Linked DNA regions of Homo sapiens: all the other regions are linked to region 1. The links come from fine-mapping of genetic effects on gene expression. A gene starts in region 1. Each other region holds a variant in brackets. All regions are shown on one strand. Distances are from middle to middle.

What was found. PIP is the estimated chance that this variant, and not a neighbour inherited with it, causes the effect.
Region 2: its variant is fine-mapped to the expression of ZNF213 in fibroblasts (GTEx, PIP 0.97).
Region 3: its variant is fine-mapped to the expression of ZNF213 in whole blood (TOPMed, PIP above 0.99).

What each region holds. Positions count from the first base shown.
Region 1 is chr16:3,133,974-3,136,730 of GRCh38, forward strand. ZNF213 (zinc finger protein 213) reads left to right here and starts at 1,056. Exons shown (of 6, transcript NM_004220.3): 1 at 1,056-1,414. It overlaps ZNF213-AS1 (ZNF213 antisense RNA 1), which reads right to left and starts at 909. Exons shown (of 6, transcript NR_110900.1): 1 at 657-909. RefSeq lists enhancers at 637-806, 817-1,006 and a silencer at 1,117-1,346.
Region 2 is chr16:3,163,166-3,165,922 of GRCh38, forward strand. TRK-CTT8-1 (tRNA-Lys (anticodon CTT) 8-1) reads left to right here and starts at 1,773; the gene lies at 1,773-1,845. The variant T/G (reference allele first, on the strand shown) is at 1,276.
Region 3 is chr16:3,179,216-3,181,972 of GRCh38, forward strand. It overlaps TRK-CTT5-1 (tRNA-Lys (anticodon CTT) 5-1), which reads right to left and starts at 1,411; the gene lies at 1,339-1,411. The variant G/A (reference allele first, on the strand shown) is at 1,372.

The DNA of each region.
Region 1 (2,757 bases):
GAACACTTATCGTTGAGTCGTGGGAAACACGTATATGTCAGGTAGTGATAAACATTAGGGAGAAAAGTTAACGCCGAGCACAGGTTGTTTACAGAGCTGGGGAAGGCCTCCTTGAGGGGGTGACATATGAGCAGAATGAGGGAGCAAGCCTTGTGGCTATCACGAGAAAGCTATCTTTATGGTTTTCCAATTAATTTTCTAAATTTTCTCTTCCAAGCATGCAACACCTACATAATTAAGACAAAACAAACCAAAAAAACTCTTTCCATTTATGAAAGAGATCTGGAGCCTGAAATCATCTCCGGGTCGAGGCGTGGAGAGAGTGGGAGAGGATCCGAGGGTATGGAAAGGACCCCGAGCCCCCCTGCTCTAGATCCCTCCGGGCCGTGGGACCCCTGACGCCCAGCAGCAACTCGTGGACAAAGCAGCTGGTGAGAGAACGCGGGACTCCGGCCAGGTCAGTGTCCCGCTTGCCGCGTCCTGCTAAGGCGACCCGAAGACAGAGGATCGCCGCAGGAGGCTCCGCGCCCCTTACCCGAGGGCACTTCCCAGCAAGCTCGACGCCTCTCCAGGGAATTGGGAGGAGCGGGACCCAAGAGGCTAGAAAAGAGTCTCCCCGGCCCGAGCTCCACGGCCCGCGGCCTTTCGGCCCTCACCTACTAGTTGGCAAAGAAAGACCGTGGCAGAAGGAAGAGGCCGCTCCAGCGCATCCCTTCGGGCGGAGCAGAAGCTCCACTTGTGGCTAGGCCATGTGCCCTCTCCGTTCCTCGGGCCAGCCTTGGCTTCCCCTTTTTGTCGCTCAAGGGCCAGGGTCGCAAGGAAATGTGAAAAAAAAGCGGAGACAAAAGAGAACGAGGTAAATCTAGATGCAGAGCCTCGCCTTTCCTCCCGGGTGCAGGTGTATGACGCGTATGGAGTTTCTGTCTTCTAATAGGCAGCCTGAGAATTCTTCCTGTTCATTGGCCATCGGTCATGGAGAAGGCGGGCTCAGTGGACGAACGGCTTTCTGGGAGCTGGGGAATGCTTGCGTAGCGTAGTTTCCCAGCGAGCCCCGCGAGGACTTCCGGCGCCGGGAGCTCGCGGCGGAAGTGGGATCTCCTGGGCCGTAGTGGGCGTTGTGTGTTTCGGGGGCGGGGGCGGGGGCGGGGGCCGGGGCGGGGACGGGGCCTCTGGCCGCCTGGCTCCAACATCAAGCACCGGGCTCCGAGTGGCCGGGATCAGCGCCCCGAGGCAGAGGCCGGAGGGCGCGCGCACTGCTAGGAAGTGCTGGTCCCCCGCGCCGCTCTGCCAGCTTGGTCCCCCGGCAGACGCCCCTGTACGATCGCCGCTCGCCCCGCGGGCGAGGCTGCGGTGGACAGCGCGGGGCTCCGGCTGGCTCGCCTTCCCGCCTGCCGTGTCCTGCTGAGCGACCCTGGTGAGTCCTGGCCCTCTTCGAGGAAAGTCTTCTTCGAAGTCACCAGAGGATGAGAATGGTGCGCGCACCTTTCAGGGGTCTTGTGAGGAGCAGAATAAATAAAGTGCTTAGGATGGACTAAAGAATTGGAAACAACCCGAATGCATCACTCGAGTATTGATTAAGAAACTAGAGCATATCCATACCGCGGAAGCTCATAGTGCCGCTAATGTCTGTGCAGTAAGGTCTCATTTATGTAGAAACACATCAAGCACCTTTTCTCCCCGCTATGGATGACTTTTTTAGTAAAAGCACAGGAAAAGGTCTGGGACGTCATTTGTCAGACTGTTAAGTCGGGGGGTACAATGGTATTGAGGAAGGGAGAGTTTTACAGATTTCTATATTGTTTGAATCTTCCCTTTTTTATTAAGATGGTTTGTATTTTTTTCATTTTCTTTTTACTTTTCTTTTCTTTCTTTTTTTTTTTTTTTTGAGATGGTCTCACTCTGTTGCCCAGGCTGGAGTACAGTGGTGCGATCATAGCTCATTGCAACCTCAAACTCCTGGACTCAAGCAATCTTTCCTCCTCAGCCTCCCCAGTAGCTGGGACTACAGGAGCCCCACCTGGCTTTTTTTGTTTTTTGGTACAGATGGCGTCTCACATTGTCTTCCCAAAGGGGTCTTGAACCCCTGGCCTCAAGCAATCATCCTGTGTCTGTCTCCCAAAATGCTGGGATTACAGGCATAAGCCACCAAGCCCGGCCAGTTTGTATTTTTATTGTTGAAACAAAAAATCGATTACTGAAAATTGCATAATACACTTTTCAGTAGAGAGTAACAATGTAAGGTATAAATGTGTCATACATTTATATGTACCTGTGGATAAATGGCTTTGGATGGTGTCTGTAAGCCCTTCTGTGACACCTCAGGGCCAGATGTGTTTTGGAATTCAGAGGTTTTCAAATTTGAGAAAGATAATATAGTGCACAGACGATATATCAAGCACATCTCCAGAGGGATCTGGGGCAACACTAAATAATGAAACATATCAGTTAAAATTTTTTAATTAGGCCGGGCGCAGTGGCTCACGCCTGTAATCCCAGCACTTTAGGAGGCCGAGGCGGGTGGATCACAAGGTCAGGAGTTTGAGACCATCCTGGCCAACATGGTGAAACCTCGTCTCTACTAAAAATACAAAAAATTAGCTGGACGTGGTAGCTGGTGCCTGTAGTCCCAGCTACTTGGGAGGCTGAAGCAGGAGAATCGCTTGAACCTGGCAGGCAGAGGTTGCAGTGAACTGAGATTGCGCCACTGCACTCCAGCCTGGGCGACAGAGTGAGACTCTCTCTCAGTAAAAAAAAAAA
Region 2 (2,757 bases), 29 kb after region 1:
TGCAGTGGTGCCATCTCGGCTCACTACAACCTCCGCCTCTGGGGTTCAAGTGATTCTCCTGCCTCAGCCTCCCGAGTAGCTGGGATTACAGGCGGGTGCCACCACGCCTGGCTAATTTTTTGTATTTTTAGTAGAGACGGAGTTTCATCATGTTGGCCAGGCTGGTCTCCAGCTCCTCACCTCAGGTGATCCACCCGCCTCAGCCTCCCAAAGTGCTGGGATTACAGGCGTGAGCCCCCGCGCCTGCGCGCCCGGCCTGATTGACATTTTCAAGCTGGGATTTTCCAGGCTTTGAGAATGACCAGGTCTGCGATGACACTCCCTGGCTGGGAGCAGGAGGGACTCCTGAGACTGCTCCCCTTGTGGACAAAGAGGAAGTTGGGCCGATGGCCGATGACGGCCAGGCCGCGAGGCTGCTGCTGGGCCCTGGGTCACAGGTCGAGGTGTCAGGCCTCTGAGCCTAAAGCTCAACCATTATAACCCCTGTGACCTGCACATATACGTGCAGATGGCCTGCAGGAGCCAAGAAGTCTGAAGAAGCCAAAAAAACCACAAAGAAGTATAACAGCCGGTTCCTGCCTTAAGTGATTAACCAACATTACAACATTCTACCACTGTGACTTGTCCCTGCCCTACCTTGGCTGATCAATCGACTTTGTGACATTCTTCTTTTGGACAATAAATCTTATGACCTCCCTACCACATACCTTGTGACCCCCTCCTCTGCTAACAATAGATAACCACCTTTTACTGTAATTTTCCATTACCTACCCAACTCCTACAAAGCAACCCCTTCCCCATCTCCCTTCGCTGACTCCTTTTTCGGACTCAGTCCGCCTGCACCCAGGTGATTAAAAAAGTTTTACTGCTTACACAAAGCCTGTTTGGTGGTCTCTTCTCACAGATGTGCTTGACAGAGGCCGCCCTGCAGTTCCTGTTCCGATCTAAGGAAGGGAAGGGGAGGCGAGGAAGAACTGGGTCCCAAGACAAGAGGGTCCATTTCGTGAGGCACACACTCAGGACAGACCCTACCCCGCTGCTCTACTCTTTCGCTTCAGTCCCTCCTTCCCGGCCTCCGCTGGCCCCCTGACCCCGCACTGATCATTAATGCAGAAGCAGCGCAGACCAGCAGCCGGGATCGCCGGTAATCCCAGCACTTTGGGAGGCGGAGGCGGGCGGATCACCGGAGGTCGGCAGTTCTGAGGTCGGCAGTTCGAGACCAGCCTGACCAACATGGAGAAACCTCTGTCATGAGCCGCTTGCCTCCACCGTGCA[T/G]GCAGATCTGCAGGGGAGTGGGAAGAGGCAGGTTCTTTGGGTCATTTGAAACGGTTTGGAGATATGCAGAGGCTGGGCTCAATATTAAGTAGGAATTGGGATTTATATTGGCAGCGAAGCGTGGACCCAGGCCCCTTCGGATCCGCACTTGGGCCCCAGAGAGAGGTTGTTCCTTTCCTCCCCGCCTCCCACTCAGGACCACCCATGGCTAATGGTCCCTGACTACAAATTCCACCTGACTGGAGGCTCGGGTTTGAGGTTACACAACTCGCTGAGAAGGGGAGGATAGGGGCTCCCAGATGTCCGGAGACCCCGGCAGGGACTGTGCACCCAGCTGTCTGAATGCCAGAGGCCGGCTCCGCGGGTAGCCATCCCTGCACCACCTCCTCGGGACTAGAGTCACCACAGCCTTTGTTTTTTTGTTTTTGTTTTTGTTTTTGCAGCGCCTGTTTTGAGGATTCTGAGTATTAGGGTGGGAAGCAAGTATTATTACATCAGCCTGGCTAGCTCAGTCGGCAAAGCATGAGACTCTTAATCTCAGGGTCGTGGGCTCGAGCTCCATGTTGGGCGGAGCTTTTACCATTCTTGGTACACAGAATTCAGCATCATCGCAGGTGACCCAGTTTCCGAAGCTTGGCCCCTAACTGGAAGGTAAAGTTTCACTGAGTCCCAACTCAATCTGTGTCCCCATCAGAGGTTTCAAGGCCTCCTCCCAAATTCATCAATCTGACCACTGGACTGCTGTGTTATCTCTCACAGCCGGTGTCCGAGAACCAGAGTCTCTTAGGGAAAAGGAATAGGAGATTTGCACCCCAGGAAGTTCTGTCTGCTCACCCTAGGCTGGGGTAGAGAACCTGGATCCCTTTACGTTAGCACAAGACCCAAAGTTTCCTTCCCTCCCCCAGGAGACTCAGTCCCAGGGCTGGAGGTGGATGTGCTGCTTCCAAGTTCAGCCAAGGGAGAAGGGCCCTCCCACCCAGTTCAGCTGAGACTGTGGGTCAATGTAGGGGCCAGCCCTACAGGGTCTGTGGGGTTTTCTCCCCATGTATGTAGATGAGAGACCATAGAAATAAAGACACAAGACAAAGAGATAAAAGAAAAGACAGTTGGGCCCCGGGGGGACCACCACCACCAAGACGCGGAGACCGGTAGTGGCCCCGAATGCCAGGCTGCCCTGTTATTTATTGGATACAAGGCAAGGGGGCAGGGTAAGGAGTGTGAGCCATCTCCAGTGATAGGTGAGGTCACGTGGGTCACATGTCCACTGGACGGGGCCCTTCCCTGTATGGCACCCGAGGAGGAGAGAGAGAGAGGAAAGACAGCTTACGCCATTATTTCTGCATTTTAGAGGCTTTTAATACTTTCACTAATTCTGCTACTGCTATCTAGAAGGCAGAGCCAGGTGTACAGGATGGAACATGAAAGTGGACCAGGAGCGTGACTGCTGAAGCACAGCATCACAGGGAGACGGTTAGGCCTCCA
Region 3 (2,757 bases), 45 kb after region 1:
ATCACCTGAGGCCAGGAGTTCGAGACCAGCCTGGCCAACATGGTGAAACCCCATGTCTACTAAAAACATACAAAAATTAGCCGGCCGTGGTGGCGCGTTCCTGCAATCATAGCTACTCAAGGGAGGCTGAGCAGGAGAATTCCTTGAACCCGGGAGGCAGAGGTTGCAGTGAGCGGATATCCCATCACCACACTCCAGCCTGCGTGACAGAGCGAGACTCATCTCAATCAGTAAATCAATCAGTCAATAAACCTCACTGCCCCAGGAATGCCGACACCAAGTCAAGCAGACCTTCTCTTCCCTGCCGTCCGCTTCCCTGACCTGCTGGGGTTGGGAGGGCACATTCTGTGGCAGGTTGACTGGGTTTCCATGTTTCCATCCCAGCTCCTCAATTTTGTCTGAAAATGCAATAATAAGAGTATAGTAGTGAAGATTAAACGAGTTTAGATAAGTAAAGAGCTTACAAGAGTGTTAGGCATGGTGAGCCTAATAAGCATTAGCTACGTCTACTGCTAATGTTGAACATCCTAATCTCTGCCCCCTGGGTCACCGTCACCAGCCTCACAACTCTGCAAGCAGGTACCAGCAGCACCACGCTGGCCGTACAAGCAGAGATCCAGTGAAATCTTGTATGCACCCAGAGGGTCCGGGTGGAGGGAGGTTGGGTAACTCAGGAGACCACAGCTGCTCCCTCCGGCTGCACTGGGCACTTCTGGGAGGATCCGGCACCCACCTCCCTGGGCTGGAGGCCTCTAATCAGAGAGGAAGGCAGGAAAGCCAGACACTGGGACTGTCAAACTAGTGAACATTGGGATCTCTATCCCCCTCTACTTGATGGGACCTGAGTCAAACTCTACCTGACATGACCCCCTGGGGATCAGCATCTGGGCAGTGTTGCTGGACAAGGGTGGAGCCAGGCATAAGGACGATGGGAGATAAGCAGAGAAAGGTTTTGTAGGTGGCTCCTTGTCCAGGCTATGATTGTTGCTTAGGGTACAAGAGAGTCCAATCCTGTACAAGCTAAGGTTCTCAGACTTTCTTCTGTTTTAATGAGGACAGCCCTGTTGGGATCCCAGAAAAGGAAAACCCTAGTGGGGGTCTTCCCCAGGGCCTCTGCTATCAAGGAGCGAGGAATTACTGTTCTCCTGGTCTTCCAGGTAGGAACCGCATCCATGGGGCAGGAGCCAGGATGGCTTTCTGGAATAAGCAGGGGAGGGCATAACCAGACATTGGTCACTTTAAATCTTCTGCTTGAGTTTCTTCTTTCACCAAGTCTTGCATTGCCAGGGGCAGAAAGCTGGGAGAAAAAGATGTACCTTCATGGTACAGCAAAAGGCACGCCCAACGTGCGGCTCGAACCCACGACCCTGA[G/A]ATTAAGAGTCTCATGCTCTATCGACTGAGCTAGCCGGGCTTCCTTATAGGATCTTTTCCATATCTACAAATGGGCCGAGTGGCCTAAGGGTGGTGGAAACAAAGGGAGGTAATGAATCACCCCGGGAAACCAGGGCGCGCTTGGGGTCCCCCACAACAGACTCAGTTCGCCACCGACGTCCCCGCTAGTGCAGGATTTCCCTCACCACCCCGCAATCTCCCATAAATGGGGGTGACCTGCCAGAGTCTCCTTCGTCACCGCGCCGGCATATATCTGTGTTCTCCCAGTCCGTGCCCTCCTCTGAAAAGGCCTTCTTTCAGAAAGAGAAAAAACATTCTCAGACTGCGACTGCACGCACTTAAAGAGTCAATGACAACCTTGGCAACCCTTTTTTTTTTTTTTTTTTTTTTTTTGAGGCCACTTGAGTTACAGGGACAGGAGAGTTCTGCTGTGTATGGGCCATCCTTGCAGCTGCAGACAGAAAGCCCAAAGCTCACTGGGACTCACAGAAGCCCTCGCAGGTGCTGCTCCGCACTGTAACCTACTGTGGCGTGCATCTAGTTGTTCCCTTTCCATTACCGTGTGCTTCTATATCTAGAACTATTTGGTTCTTTTTTCAATCAAGAAGGTTGGAGGTCCTGATGTCAAAGATATTTTCTTTATTGCCTTTCATTTCTTTAGACACAGTAGGGACAGTTGTATTATAAGTCGGATACACTTTGCATCTGAAATATTTGCAATATTGTTTCTGTTCCTGTTAATGAGTTGTTGCTCCTGGTACCTTCTTTCCTTGTTAATTTTTAGGGTGCAATGTCCATTTTCCTTGCAAATTTCTTTGTGTAGGAAATTCTGTGAGATCTGGAATACAAATGTATTTGTCCACACACACACAAAATTATTGTTTGCTTCTGCAGGGGCTCAAGGGCATAACCAGACATTGGTCACTTTAAATCTGCTTGAGTTTCTTTCCACTTGGTCCTCAAGCGCTCAAAATTGGATTAGTCACGACTCTTGGTTCCCGGCATGTTCTCAAACCCAGCATCCCAAACAAAAAGGAAGACTCTGCCAATAGATTCTGTCCTCAGAGTAGATGTGAGGAGGCCCCAGTCCTGGTGGGCGCTGGGACTCAGGACGCAGATACCCGGGTTCCTGGGTTCAGTCTGTACCCCTTCCAGAACTAGGATAGGGGAGGAGAGGAGCCCCAGAAGGCTACACGCAGGTGAGGAGTGTCGGGATGTGGGGAGGGAGAGGACTCTAGACCCCAGATACAAACGCCCATAGCCCATCTCCTCTGCTCAAGTGCCCGGCTTTCTCTCCTTAAGGCTCTAGCCGCCGGAGCCAGGGACACTGGGTGGGAATCCCAGTGTAGAGCTTTTAAGGTGTCT